Linked DNA regions of Homo sapiens. The protein of the gene in region 1 interacts with the protein of each later gene in a pairwise test. Each region holds a gene or a part of one and is shown in the gene's direction. Other genes may lie near its edges.

The links.
Region 2: the proteins of JADE1 (region 1) and UBE3A interact in a two-hybrid assay, tested with the Homo sapiens proteins (3 studies listed by BioGRID and IntAct).
Region 3: the proteins of JADE1 (region 1) and PFDN1 interact in a two-hybrid assay, tested with the Homo sapiens proteins (one large-scale study listed by BioGRID and IntAct).
Region 4: the proteins of JADE1 (region 1) and HMOX2 interact in a two-hybrid assay, tested with the Homo sapiens proteins (one large-scale study listed by BioGRID and IntAct).

The regions. Positions count from the first base shown.
Region 1 is NC_000004.12:128,847,674-128,851,303, forward strand, and holds part of JADE1 (protein Jade-1), read left to right. Parts: intron 1-1,306; coding exon 1,307-1,494; intron 1,495-3,630.
Region 2 is NC_000015.10:25,432,498-25,436,127, reverse strand, and holds part of UBE3A (ubiquitin-protein ligase E3A), read left to right. Parts: intron 1-3,630. UniProt on the Homo sapiens protein: E3 ubiquitin-protein ligase which accepts ubiquitin from an E2 ubiquitin-conjugating enzyme in the form of a thioester and transfers it to its substrates.
Region 3 is NC_000005.10:140,247,792-140,251,204, reverse strand, and holds part of PFDN1 (prefoldin subunit 1), read left to right. Parts: intron 1-3,413. UniProt on the Homo sapiens protein: Binds specifically to cytosolic chaperonin (c-CPN) and transfers target proteins to it. Binds to nascent polypeptide chain and promotes folding in an environment in which there are many competing pathways for nonnative proteins.
Region 4 is NC_000016.10:4,500,295-4,503,924, forward strand, and holds part of HMOX2 (heme oxygenase 2), read left to right. Parts: intron 1-2,449; exon of another isoform or gene 2,450-2,665; intron 2,666-3,630.

The DNA.
Region 1 (3,630 bases):
ATTAATACAGCTTGTGGAAGTTTTACAAGCTGTATTAAAGTTGGAGCCCTGAGCAAGTTGGATCCCTGCTCTTGGCTGAGTAGGAGAAATAAATCCCTTCAGTTTGTCCATGTCAGTGTCACGTAGATAAAATCACTCCCGTAATATAAGGGTGATGAAGGTACTCTGACAGACTCTGGGCAGCCTGTTGACAGTAATTTAAACTGTGGAAATGCATATGTGGAAGGACTTTGTTGAGGCCTGGGGTCTGTGATTAGGAAGATGGCCTTTTTTTGGTTCCAAGTCGGGAGTGATTTGCTCTTGCACATGCAGTCTTATTTTGAGTGGGGTGAGTTGGAAGGCACCACTCCAGGTGTTAAAGGTCGGGAGAGATTGTGTGGCAGTACCAGGAGGAGAAACTTGTGCTTTTGTTCCTGGGATCATGGGTATATGTTGGGAGAGTCAGTCCCCTTCTTGGCTGGGACTCTGTTTCTTAGATTTTTTGGTAATGGCCGGGGTCTTATTTCCTTTTTTTTGTTTGCGTTTGAGACAGTCTCACTCTGTTGCCCAGGCTGGAGTGCAGTGGTGCAATCTTGGCTCACTACAACCTCCGCCTCCTGGGTTCAAGCAATTCTCCTGCCCCAGCCTCCCGAGTAGCTGGGGTTACAGGCGTGTGCCATCATACCTGGCTAATTTCTGTATTTTTAGTAGAGATGGGGTTTCACTGTGTTGGCCAGGCTGGTCTCAAACTCCTGACCTCAAATGATCCGCCTGCCTCGGCCTCCCAAAGTGCTGGGATTACAGGCTTGGGCCACCTTGCCCCAGCCCAAGGCCTGATTTTCTTTTCCCTCTCTCCCTCTTTTTTTTTGTGAGGTGTGAGGGTTGGCGGGTTTCTCCCTCTGGTTCTCAGAGTCTGCTGCGCCTGCCCTGCCTGTGTGGTGCCCTGGTTCTAATGGCCTCCAGCAGGGATGGGCAGGTCTGGTTAAGGGAAAGTGATTTAATGACTAACTCTTGAAATGTATGGGTCAGTGTGTTTTGGTGTTGGCTGCAGGCCAGAGTGGTCAGAGGTGGTGGGCAGGGCACAGCAGGGTCCCGGGAAGCAGATTTTGAAGGCTTCTACAGTGTTTTCATTTGTATCTATTGCCTGTTAGCAGGCTTTAACAACTTCTAGTTAAGGTTTTATTAGCAGTGACATTCAGGTTTTCAGCCTCTGGTGATGACCTGGGGCTCTAAGGGTTGGAAGAGGAAGACATTTGGGGCCTTGTGGCACACTTCATTGTCTGTGGCTGAAAGGGTAACCTGGCTGCCTTGTTTTTTTATTATCCAGGGTTGTGTCTGAAGAGAAATCCCTCATGTTCATCAGGCCCAAGAAGTACATCGTGTCATCAGGCTCTGAGCCTCCCGAGTTGGGCTATGTGGACATCCGGACGCTGGCTGACAGCGTGTGTCGCTATGACCTCAATGACATGGATGCTGCATGGCTGGAACTGACCAATGAAGAATTTAAGGAGATGGGTGAGAGACCATGTATTCTATTATTTTATTAACCAATGATGAATAGAGACATTTTAGGCAGGTAGGTGAGTAGCAGAAAGCTCCTTATTGCCAGTTGCAGGCAGCTCCATCATAGCTTTAGTCAGTGAGAATCGCAGCCCTGCCTTAGATCTCAGCCTGTTTGGCTGTGTCAGATGTGCTGAGATGGTTTCAGAGTGGAAGCAAGGCTCCTCGGCTCAGGCACCAGGGATTCCCATCCCCGCTCTGATCTAACTCCCTCATTCACTTACCTTAAGGAAGCTGAAGTCCAGGGAAACGAAGTGACAAAAGGGCATGGCCCACAGTTACCTGCTCTAGTGTTTTTTTCCTGTGATGCCATTCGGATTCCTTCTTTAGCCGTGGTTTGCTGCTTCTCTAAATGAACACTCTTCCAGGCATGCTCCCCATTTCCAAGCACATCATGTGTGTTTTAACTTGAGCGATTTTCCTTATGTCATGCTGCAAACCTGGAGTTCTTTTTCCCTCCGTTTATCTCTGTCCTGGCTTTCCTTCAGTGAAGCCTGACATTAGCTGTGTGCCCAGCCCTTCTCCACCTCTTTTCTGCAAGCTCATTTTAGCGTATGTAGACGTTGGAGCATCTCATGGTGTTGAGACTGGGATGGCGTATAGGTCTCATCTCACATGCCAGTCCTGATTGCTAAGGGTTGCCTTGAGGGTCTTGATGAACAAGACAGTGGAGTCAAGTCTGGGCTCAGTGTGAAAAACTGTGAGGATTAATTAGCTTTTGTGCTGTAGGTACACGGTGGGGAGGTGGTGGCAAGGGCCATGTATTGTAATCTAGGACATAGTAAATAATCACAAGATCGGCCGGGCTTGTTGGCTCATGTCTGTAATCCCAGCACTTTGGGAAGCCAAGGTGGGCAGATCACCTGAGGTCAGGACTTCAAGACCAGCCTGGCAAACATGGTGAAACCCCGTCTCTACTAAAAATACAAAAATTAGCTAGGCGTCGTGGTGGGTATCTGTGGTCCCAGCCACTCAGGAGGCTGAGGCAGAAGAATCACTTGAGGTGATTCTTCTCAAGTCACTTGAGGGGGTGGAGGTTTCCTTGAGCCGGGATTGTGCCACTGCATTCCCACCTGGGCAACAGAGCCAGACTCCATCTCAAAAAAAAAAAAAAATCACAAGATTTTTGTCATGGTGGATTTCACAGCCTTGAAGGGCCAAGACCTTTTGCGTCTTTCCAGGGAACGTAGCATAGGGTGTGGCTTGCAGTAGATGCTTGTCCTGCCATTAGGCTCACCACCTGTTGAATGGGAGTGATAATGTAGACTGAGCTGAGCATGGTGTTGTCTTCTACTCGCTCAGTTACTCAAGTGTTTTTATAGACAAAATAGACTTCCTTCTTCTTGGTCCTGCTTTAGGTATTAATGGCCAAAACATTAGCAGGCCACAAGGTGGTTTTATGGCATGAGTTCAGGAGTTCTCAGAGATCTTTTGGAATTGAATACTAAATTTTAGCTTCACAGATGATACAGTTTCTGCTGTGTTGTAAGCACATTATAAAGACCAGTGTAATACACTTGACTGGAATCTAGGTGTCCTGTGTTAAGTCAGAGGACTCAGCCCAAAGACTCTTCGCATTTATGAATGGTTTAAATAATAAGAACTGGGCTAATCCATATTTGAAGATACTGTTGAATACATTGGCAAGATTAATTTTGTAATTTTATAACATAAACGGAACGCATGCTTAAATATGTTTGTCTTAGCTGTTATTGGTCTTTTTTTCTTTCTTTTTTGAGATGAAGTCTCGCTCTGTGGCCCATGCTGGAGTGCAGGGGTGCAATCTCGGCTGACTGCAACCTCTACCTCCTGAGTTCAAGCGATTCTCCTGCCCCAGCCTCCCAAGTAGCTGGGATTATTGGCACCTGCCACCATGCCTGGCTAATTTTTGTATTTTTAGTAGAGACAGGATTTCGCCGTATTGGCCAGGTTGGTCGTGAACTCCTGACCTCAAATGATCTACCTGCAAAGTACTGGGATTATAGGCATGAGCCATCGCGCCTGGTGTTTCAGTCTTTTTTGCATTTGGTTAACTATGTTTTTCAACCTTGTAGAAGTAAGAGGATGAGGAGGGATAAACCATTTAAAAAT
Region 2 (3,630 bases), on another chromosome or scaffold:
GTAGTAACAAGACATCTTGGTATGTATAGTGGTAATATCTTTGGAATTAGACCCTAATTTTAATTCTGGCCTTATTAATCTTGGTAAGCCACAGTTTTGTCATCTGTAAAATGGGTTGGTGAAACTTCCCCAGAGTTGTGAGGCTTAAAGTATGTAAAACGCCTAACACGTAGGCACTCAATAAGTATTACCTTAGAAATCTTCCTATCCAGTTTTTCTGAATGGTCTGGAAGCACCTTGTATGTAGTGGACTACAGCATGTTATCCTTTATGTTGTTTATTTCTTTTCTCATTAGCTATGAACTTTTTAAGGCCAGGAATTCCTAGTGTTTACCAGAGAATGTGTTACTAGATGTCTTAGTCTGTTCTGGCTGCTATTACAAAACACCACAGACAGCATGGCTTATAAACAACAGAAGTTTATTTCTCACGGTTCTGGGGGCTGAGAAGTCCAAGATCAAGGTACCAACAAATTTGACATCTTAGTGAGGGCCCTCTTCCCTTGTTCATAGATAGCTAGCTGTCTTTTCACCATTACCTCATGTAGTAGAAGAGTAGACGGGGCTCTATAGGGCCTCTTTTATAGAGGCATTAATTCCATTAATGATGGCAAAGCTTCCCAAAGGCCCCACCTCTTAATACTATCACCTTGGAGGTTAGGCTTTCAACATGAATTTTGGGGGACACATTCAGACCACAGCACTAGAGCAGGCATGAATTGGTTATTGGTAAATCAGTAAATGATCAACTAACATTTATTAGGTTCCTCCTGTGGCTTCTATGAGCTGAGCTAAGTACAGGACCCACAAAGACAAGAAAGATGTCTGTCTTTTTTGAATGCTTATAGTTGAGTGACTTTCTCACATTTGTGTGTGTGTGTGTGTGTGTGTGTGTGTAAAACCCTATCACATAATGGAACTTCATTTTCCCATGCCCTTCCAATCTAAGAGCAGTTCTATGGACTCAATACCTCCTACCCACCAGCTGCTACTGTAAAGATTTACTTTTTTACTCCTTTTAAAAAGTTCAACCCTCTGGCACATGCATTACTTCATTCCTTGGTCCCAGCCCACCACCCCAGTATCTGGCACGTAGTGTATTAGTATTTGTGTGTGTGTGTGTGTGTGTGTGTGTGTGTGTGTGTGTGTGTGTGTGTGTATGTATATAGAATTTAAAATTTTTACTCCGGCAGTTGTCTTCAAATACTCTAATTTTGGGGGGCATGATTATCATTCTGTCTTCTGGCAGTACATGGATAGATGCTACCTGAGTAGGATTGTCTATGAGGTCAGCTGCTCCAGTCATTTTATACAAGAGGAAATTGGAGTGCAAAGCTTTAAAATGATTTTCTTAAAGTCACCCAGGTGTCAGAACCAGAACCAGAGTCCATGTCTCTAGTTCAGGACTCTGCACACATTGGCACATGTTCTGTCCTACCTTTTGGGATGAATAGTTATACTTGCTTTGTGATTACTCACCCACCTTTTTGGAGACATATGAGTGTTTTGTACACTATTAATAGAAGGCAGCCTTCACAAAATGCCATCTGCAGATCTGTTATTTCTTCTAATAAAGGAAATGATGTAAAATTACCTTAAATAGAAATAGTGTTAATTCTTCTGGAGACATATTCCATAATCCAAACACGAAATGTTTGAAATACTTGAAGATGCCATATAAATAAGTCCTTTGTAAAAAGATAATATTAAAAATTTTTGTTTTATAGAGATGGGGGTCTCACTGTGTTGCCCAGGCTGGTCTTGAACTCCTCAGCTTTTACTTTAGCTTCCCAGTGTGTTGGGATTACAGGCATGAGCCACAATACCTGGCCAAGTCCTTTTTTTTAATCAAATGACTTATTAATACACAGTTTCTTTGCCAGCTTTTGTTTTCATTTGCTATCAAAAATGTTGCTTAGTAGTGCTTTGATCTGAGTTATCAATAACAGGTAAATGCCATTATGGATAATAATTCAAAAAGAAGCTTATTAATTATTAGGCCTATCTGAGAGTGAAGTAAAGTTAGCATTTTCTTTTTGTTTATTTTACTTATTGTTTATTTGTTTAGAGACAGGGTCTCGCTGTGTTGCCCAAGTTGGAGTGCAGTGGTGCTGTCATAACTCATTGCAGTCTCAGGCTGGAGTGATCCTCCCATCTCACCCTCCTGAGTAGGTGGGATTAGCATATGCCACCATGCCTGGCTAATTTTTTTATTTTTTAATTTTTTTGTGGAGATGGGGTCTTGCCGTGTTCAGGTTGGTTTCAAACTCCTGGTCTCAAGCGGCTTGGCCTCCCAAGGTGCTAGGATTACAGGTGTGAGCTACCATGCCCAGCTGAGCATTTTTAAAAAATACTGGTCTTTGTACATGAGTCGTTACTATTTGATTCTAAGCCTTATGACTGATATCCCTAAAAATTATTTATAAAATTTTAAGTGCATCAGAGTCATTGAAATGGAATGAGCACTGTCTTTTGGTCTTGAGGTTGTTTTAACTAGCTTCGTAATGGTCATGAGCAGGTTATTTAGCTTTTGAAGCCTTCGTTCCTTCTTTTGTCAAATGAAAGTGATAGTTGCTTTGTTTTAAAAGAGTATGCTTTTCAAACGTGATCATTCTTGAAAATGTAGATTAAGAGCTTTTTAGAGGCCAAGTGCCATGGCTCACGCCTGTCATCCCAGCACTTTGGGAAGCCGAGGCGGGCGGATCACGAGATCAGGAGATCGAGACCATCCTGGCCAACACGGTGAAACCTCATCTCTACTAAAATACAAAAAAAAAATTAGCCGGACGTGGTGGCGCATGCCTGTAGTCCCAACTACTCAGGAGGCTGAGGCAGGGGAAACGCTTGAACACGGGAGGCGGAGGTTGCAGTGAGCCAAGATCATGCTACTGCCTGGCGACAGAGTGAGACTGCCTCTCAAAGAAAAAAAAAAAAACTTTTTAGAAACGTTGTTTTGGGGAATTTTTAGTGTGTGAATTCATTTTAAATATGTGAACTCCATTTGACATGGACAATGGATCTTAATAGTTTGTGATACATTATTCAGTGTATTAATCAAAAGTCAAATCTCTTTTGTAATTTGCTGTACCAGACCTGTTGTGTTAATCTGATCAATGGCAAGTGAATCATAAGATTGACCTGAAAGGAAAAGATATTTTTAGGGGACATAGAATCATATTGGATAAGATTATTCCTATAGTTCATTTTCAGGAAATCTGAACAGGAATCTCGTGTAAGGAATCACATGTGAATTATAGAAGAGAGTCTGATGTAAGACTTTATTTATTAAGGTCTGCATCTGTGTTTCAAGTAAGAGCATAGAGGTAGTATATGAGCCCTGAACACTCATACAAGTAGGATAAAATTTTTCTTAAAACTGTTGGCTGGACAGTGTAGAGTCTAATGCTGTGACTCTTAACAGTTTTGTGTGTTCCAGAAGTTCATCTCCTCAGGATCAATTGAGGTTAGTCTAGCACAGACTTTAGTTATAGAAACCAAACATGAGAAAAATTTTTTGACCCATGTCTTCGTAGCATGCAGGCTTGGTAGCTCTTTCCTAGTTCTGGATGTGTGCCCGTTGTATATACTTTCAGCAATTCAGGATGTTCCTTTTCATATTTAAGACAAGCAC
Region 3 (3,413 bases), on another chromosome or scaffold:
CAGCACTTTGGGAGGCTGAGGCAGGTGGATCATTTGAGGCCAGGAGTTCGAGACCAGCCTGGCCAACATGGTGAAACCCCGTCTCTACTAAAGATAGAAAAATTAGCTGGGTGTGGTGGTACTCACCTGTAATCCTCAGCTACTCGGGAGGCTGAGATGGGAGAATTGCTTAAACCTGGGAGGCAGAGTTTGCAGTGAGCCTAGATCATGCCATTGCACTCTACCTTAGGCAACAGAGCAAGACCCTGTTTCAAAAAAAAATAAAAAGAATATAATGTAGAATAATTAAATCAAGCTAGTTAACATATTCATTACCTCAAATACTTGACATTGTTTGTAGTGATAGGTTGGAGTTTTAAATCTGTGTATATCCAGGGGCAGGGGGTGAGAGGGCAATGCCGAAAGCTGAAAACCACCTTGAAGGAAAATGGTCATTTTCTGCCTTTGCTTCTTCTGTTGGGCGTTCCTTGATTATTCAAGTTGGGAGGGAAAACTAAAAAGTGTGTGTACATCAGTAAGGCGTCATTTCCCACACTAAAGCACTTTATTCAACAAACATTAAATTCCTATTATGTGCCAGCCATTCTTCTAGACGGTAGGACCGTATCAGGTGACAGAACAAAGTCCTGCCCTTGTGGACCTTTCCGTCTCATAAGGGAAGCCAGACAGTTTCTCCTTCCTGTGGTGGAAAGAGCTCTGGAGAAGAGTCAAGGTGAGGAGAATAGGGAGTATTGGGCAGCATGTACTCAAGAAGGCCTCGCAGATAAGGTAACATTTGAGAAAGCCCTGAAGGAAGTGAGGGGATGAGTAATGTGAATATCTGGGGAAGAGAACTTCTACATGGAGAGCACAGCGAAGGGCAAAGGCCAGGCAGGAACATACCTGGTGGATTGGAGGAGCAGCATGGGAGGCCTGTGTGACTGGAGCTGAAGGAGTGACGGGGAAGAGTTGTTGGAGGTGAGGTCGGAGATTTAGCTGAAACCAAGACCATGCATGCATGGCTTCTTGGAAGTTGAAAAGTACTGTGGTGTGAATAGTTGTTTCTCCCTAAAGTCTTTGTTGAAATCCTAACTCCTGAGATGATGGTGTTAGGAGGTGTGGCCATTTGGGAGATGAGTAGGTCATGAGGGCAGAGCCCTTTAAATGGGGTTAGTGCCCTTACCCAAGAGCACAGCACCGCACTGGAAATGAAGGATGCCCCTGCTGTGGTGTGCATAGGGTTTCTTTGCCCCCTGGCAGGTCTCATGTTGAAATTTGGTACCCCCAGACCCCCCCAACCCCCGCAAAAAAATTTGATCCCCAGTGTTGAAGGTGGGGCCTGGTGGGAGATGTTTGGATTATGGGGGCGGGTTTCTTGTGTATGGCTTGGTACCATTCTCATGGGAGTGAGTTCTCATGCTTTGTTTCTTCACTGACTGGCTGTTGAAAAGAGCCTGGCACCTCCTCTCTCATTTCCTCTCTGGCCACATGATTTCTGTACAGGTGGCTCCCCTTCGCCTTCCACCACGAATGCAAGCAGCCAGAAACCCTCTCCAGAAGCAGATGCTGCACCATGCTTGTATAGCCTGCAGACCTGTGGGCCAAACAAACCTCTTTTCTTCATAAATTACCCAGCCTCAGGTATTCCTTTAGAGCAACACAAACAGACTAAGACACCCGTGGAGACAGAGGCCTCCCAAGGTTCTTCTGCACTCACAGGACCAATCCTGCCACGCCTCTGACCATACTGAATTGCAGAGGCCTGGGTAACTGCCCTTAAAACTTTATAAGCTAGGATCATACTTATCCCCAAATAATTGTGGTAGAATTGGTGTCTGGGGGCATCCCTCATTTCAGGTATTGTGTTGGTTTTCTACTTGGTTTTCTACTTGTATTTGAAGCTACCACGAATTGGTCTTCACAGCATCTTGTTTGGACACTAATGATTGGATTCAGGGCCCACCCTAATATAATATGATCTCATCTTAACTTAGTTACATCTGCAAAGATCCTCTTTCCAAATTACCAGAGATTAGAACTTCAGCATATCTTTTTGTCAAATTCAGTTCAACCCACAACAGGTGCCTTGTTCTGGGTTTGATTATGATGAGAGTCTTCTGGGCTTAAATATGCTTGGGGACTGAGACAGGAATTATTGAAATACAGTTAGAAAGGTCCACTATGTTAGGGATGTCCTGTCCTGTTGGAATTTTTTCTTTTAAGAAATGTCTACTACGTTTATTTAAACTAATTAAAAATTTAAAGATGAAGGCAGTATCGTGGCACATGCCTCTAAGGCAAGAGGATTGCTGGAGCCCAGGAGTTTGAGGCCAGCCTGGGCAATATAACAAGACCCCATTTCTAGAAACAAAACAAAAATATAGATAGATATGTTAATTTGCATCATTGTTTGGAAACCTGAAGACTTTAGGATATGCAGTGGTAAAATTCATCAAAGTGTTAGAAAGCAGAGATTTTACAGAAGAAGGAATTTTTAAAGCTGAGAGGTATAGCCTGAGTTTGGCTGGGGAGTCTGGGTGGGAGGGCAGAAGAGCTCTTGCTGATGTTCCAAGTTGATGGTTTTGCCAGCTGTGGCAGCAAGTTGGCAGAGATTGAATGCAACAGACCAGAGTCCCTGGGCCCTGGCGGACTTTTGTAGGAGGAGAAGTGGGCTTATTCCATTCGCCTTTCCCCTGCATTCACATGGGGTCCACAGGGTGCCCAGGTGGTGTATGGCACCGAGCTATTGCTCCCCTCTTTGTGACACCCAGTGGACATACATTCTTTAGTGTGTGTCAGGGCTTACTAGTATTTGCCTTTTTTCAGCTCACCACAGTTAAAGTCTAAGAGTTGTTTATCGGCCTGGCACGGTGGCTCACCCCTGTAATCCCAACACTTTGGGAGGCCGAGGCGGGCAGATCACGAGGTCAGGAGTTTGAGACCAGCTTGGCTAACACAGTGAAACCCCATCTCTACTAAAAATAGAAAAAATTAGCCAGCGTGGTGGTGTGTGCCTGTAATCCCAACTACTTGGGAGGCTGAGGCGGGAGAATCGTGTGAACCCGGGAGGCGGAGGTTGCAGTGAGCCGAGATGGCGCCATTGCACTCCAGCCTGGGCAACAGTGCGAGATTCCGTCTCAAAAAAAAAAAAAAGAGTTGTTTATCAAAGGAAGTTTAAATTCCCACTCTGATATCACAGTGATAGGACTGTATTTGGTTTAGCAATGTAATTAAAATTCCTTAGCAGCAGTATGCATTTGCAGGCATTGGATTGAATGGTTATCATGGTCACCATGAGTTGGAGTTTTGCTCTTGTTGCCCAGGCTGGAGTGCGATGGCATGGCCTTGGCTCACTGCAGCCTCCGCCTCCTGGGTTCAAGTGATTCTCCTGCCTCAGCCCCTAAGTAGCTGGGATTACAGGTGCCCCCACCACA
Region 4 (3,630 bases), on another chromosome or scaffold:
AGGTGTTCAGCAGGGAGGGAGCACTCGTGGAGTCCCAGTGCAGAAGTCTCTGAGCAGCCACTTAGCCTCCCTGTGTTTGTGGGGTAACAACCCGAGTTCATGTTGTGGGCATCTCATGCAGTGTAGTAGCTGGTCACTGTCAAGTGTCACTATTTCATTGAGTCAGAAGCCTGCAGAATTGTTCTCATTCCAGGGAGTGAGTCAGTCTGCTGTTGCTTACTCTCGGTGCTGGCTGAGCTCAGCAACCTGCTCTCTTCCTTCAGTTCAGGTTTCTCCAGGGCAAAGAAGTCTTTATTGTTCCTTTCTGTATGACCAGATGGGAAATGAATTATAATATAGTCCTTAGATTATATTCCCACCTGGTAGCAATGCACTGAGTTACCTGACCTGAAATTTGTTGGACTTAGTCTCCATGGAGGAGGATTTACCATCTTCGTTGTCTCAGAAGTCCTGGTAGTGCCTCATGCCAGCAATTTAGCAGGAGCAAAAGCTTTGAGACAGTGTTCTGGATCTGCTGAGCTGGTCTAAAGGAACCTCTTTTGCTTGAAGTAACTGTGATAGGAACTTTGTTACTGCTTCTGTTAGCTCAGGTGTTGGAATGAGAATCAGCAGCTGATGAGGTGAACAGCTAGGAGTACTGGAATTATGGAGTAGTGGAGGTAGATTTTATAAACAGAGGGTCCCAGTTTTTTGGAAATGGGAAAGAGAGAGGGTAGACTGGCCTTTCTAGAATTTGTAACAGAAAAGAGGACCCAGGAGCTTCCATTGACTAGTTAGTTAATGCAGTGCGGGATCTTAGCTGGTTTGCTTGGTCCAATTCCTGTCTCTCGGTTTCTTTTTTCCCTTCCCTTCGCTGCCTTCCCCTCCCTCTTCCCTTTTTCTTTCCAAGAGAATTGAGTCACTCCATATAAAAGAAGCAGCCAGTTGGCTAAAAAGTCCAACAAAAAACAAGTATTTATAGCTCTCCAAATTTCCCACTTGTCATTATCAGTATACTTTTGCACACAGTTATAGTCGGTGTTTGGGATCCTTTTTAAAAAAATAAAAAGTTTCTGTAGGCTTTTCCATGCATGAACACAGCTTATCAACTTGCCCCGGCTGTGCCAGGATTCCATTGTTGACTGTTGTTTGAGCAGTCATGCCCTTTGTTCTTAGGCTGTGTGTTGTTTTTTTCCTAACATCATAGTATGGCTGGGTATTATTTTGATACAGATTACAATTACTATTACTATTTCTTGAAGTGTATTTCCCAGAGTGGAATATTTTAGGATCTTTTTTTCTCTTTTGTGGGGGTGGGGAACATGTAGCTTCTTGTGGATATTAGACATTGAAGTCTAAAAAGGTTCTATATTTATGATTTGGCCCTCAATTTTCTAGAGATTCCAATGGTTCCTGCAAAGAAAAGAGCATTCAAGTATAGAAACCAGCCAGACTAAGTCTGGACATGTAGCTTTTCAGAAAGTGAAAAAAAATTATGTTTCTGCAGTTGCAAGGTGGCCTCTGAATGCCACACTGTGTGGCCACTCCCTTGGACAGTGGCTAGGCCACAGGGTCGCCTCCCCTGGCCCCAGTCTGTGGGTTGAATATGCTAACCGAGCCTTCCCAGGAGCCTCCTCTGCCCCCAGCCCCCAGGTCTGTACAGATGGTAGTTGGTACTTTCAGCCCGCCTTGAGAACTCAGTATTCTTCCTGTTAGCTTTCCTTCAAAGTAAAATCGGTAGAACCTATTTTGAGTGTAGAAAATTTGAAGTCGTGGACAGCAGATTACAAAAAATTGCCCACCACCATGCCTGGCTCATTTTTGTATTTCTAGTAGAGATGGGCTTTCACCATGTTGGCCAGGCTGGTCTCGAACTGCTGACCTCAGGTGATCTGCCCACCTCGGCCTCCCTAAATGCTGGGATTATAGGTGCGAACCACTGTGCCTGGCTCCTTTTTGTATTTTTCGGAGAAGCACAAGGACTTGTTGTTTAATTAAGCAAGACTATACTCTCCCAGAGCATGCAGTTATTATTGAGTAAAACACAGTTAATGAGATTTAATCACGTTCCCTATCACTGTTGTGCAGCATGATAAGTAGGTGCAAATGGCAAGAAGCACGCTGAAGTTACTGCAGTTGGTAACCTGGGCCATGGATGGCACTTGTCTTTGCCTCATTTTGCCTGTAAGAAGCATGGGGCCTGTGGTCCTGGGGTACCTGGACCCTCAGCCTGGTGTGTGTGTGCCCTCAGCCTGGTCCTTTACTTCCATCACCCATCTAGAGGCTCCAGGACCCTTTACTGCACCCCTCCCTCCTCTAGATAGCTCAGTGTTTTCATCCCAGCACCTTTTTCTCTGCTGCCTGAGAACTGAGCAGCCAGAGACAAATTTTGGCTCTCAGGGTCCTCAAGGGTGTACAGCAAAGCTGTTCTTATTATTTAAAGTATTTTATTTATTTATTTTTGAGACAGAGTCTTACTTTGTCGGCCAGGCTGGAGTGCAGTGGCATGATCTCGACTCACTGCAACCTCTGTCTCCCAGGCTCAAGAAATCCTCCTACATCAGCCTCCCAAGTAGCTGGGATTACAGGCTGGAGTGCAGTGGCTCCATCTCGGCTCACTGCAACCTCCGCCTCCCAGGTTCAAGCGATTCTCCTGCCTCAGCCTCCTGAGTAGCTGGGATTACAGGTGTGTGCCACCATGCCTGGCTAATTTTTGTATTTTTAGTAGAGACAGGGTTTTACCATGTTGGCCAGGCCGGTCTCGGACTCCTGACCTCCTGATCTGCCCACCTCGGCCTCCCAAAGTGTTGGGATTACAGGCGTGAGCCACCGCGCCCGGCTAGCAAAGCTGTACTTTTACCAAAAAAAAAAAAGAAAACATTTATAAATCAAGGTCTGAAGGCCCATGTGAGGCTTATTCTACAGCTTGCAATGCCTGTTTTTGCCCCTTGGTAAGTGGACGCACAGCTGGGCAGCCTTATGCTATCTCTGTGAACTACCCATTTCTGGCTTTGTTCATAATATTCCCTTGATCTGGAGGCCCTCCCCCAGCCCTGCCCCAAATCCTGTCTGTGTTGAGGGTCCTGCCCCAGGAAGCCCTCTGCATACTCTTCCCTGCATGTAATACCTGCCTGCTTTCACATTCTTCTAGACTGTGCTGTGCATCGTACAGTTCATCAGCATTATTGCAGAGTAGAGTGTCTCTGATTTGGAGTCAAGAGAAGGTTCCATTTTTCTGTACATCCCGATGTTTATTTTCTGAGTGTTCTCAGACATCACTAAGCCTCAGTCAAAATAAAGTATGATCATGATGTAACATTCATTGAGTGCTTATCACATGGTAGGCATTGTGCTATATGAGTTATTGCTTGACTTCCTAAAATAATCCCAGTAGAGATGCTAAATCTAAAGGTGAGAGAGATGGTTCAAAAAGACCTCAGTGAGCAAACCATGTACTATAATATCCTAAAAGATAACAAAAATGTAACTAGGTATCTAGAGAAAACTCAGGAAGGATATGTGCCTTGGGCCTTTTAAGGACCATTTCTTAACACTTCTGTGTTCTTCTTGACACCTGTTTCTGGGTAGAGCACATAGAAAATGCTCAGTAAATAAGTTCTTTTTCCTTGGCCCAGTTTGGCCTGATTTGGC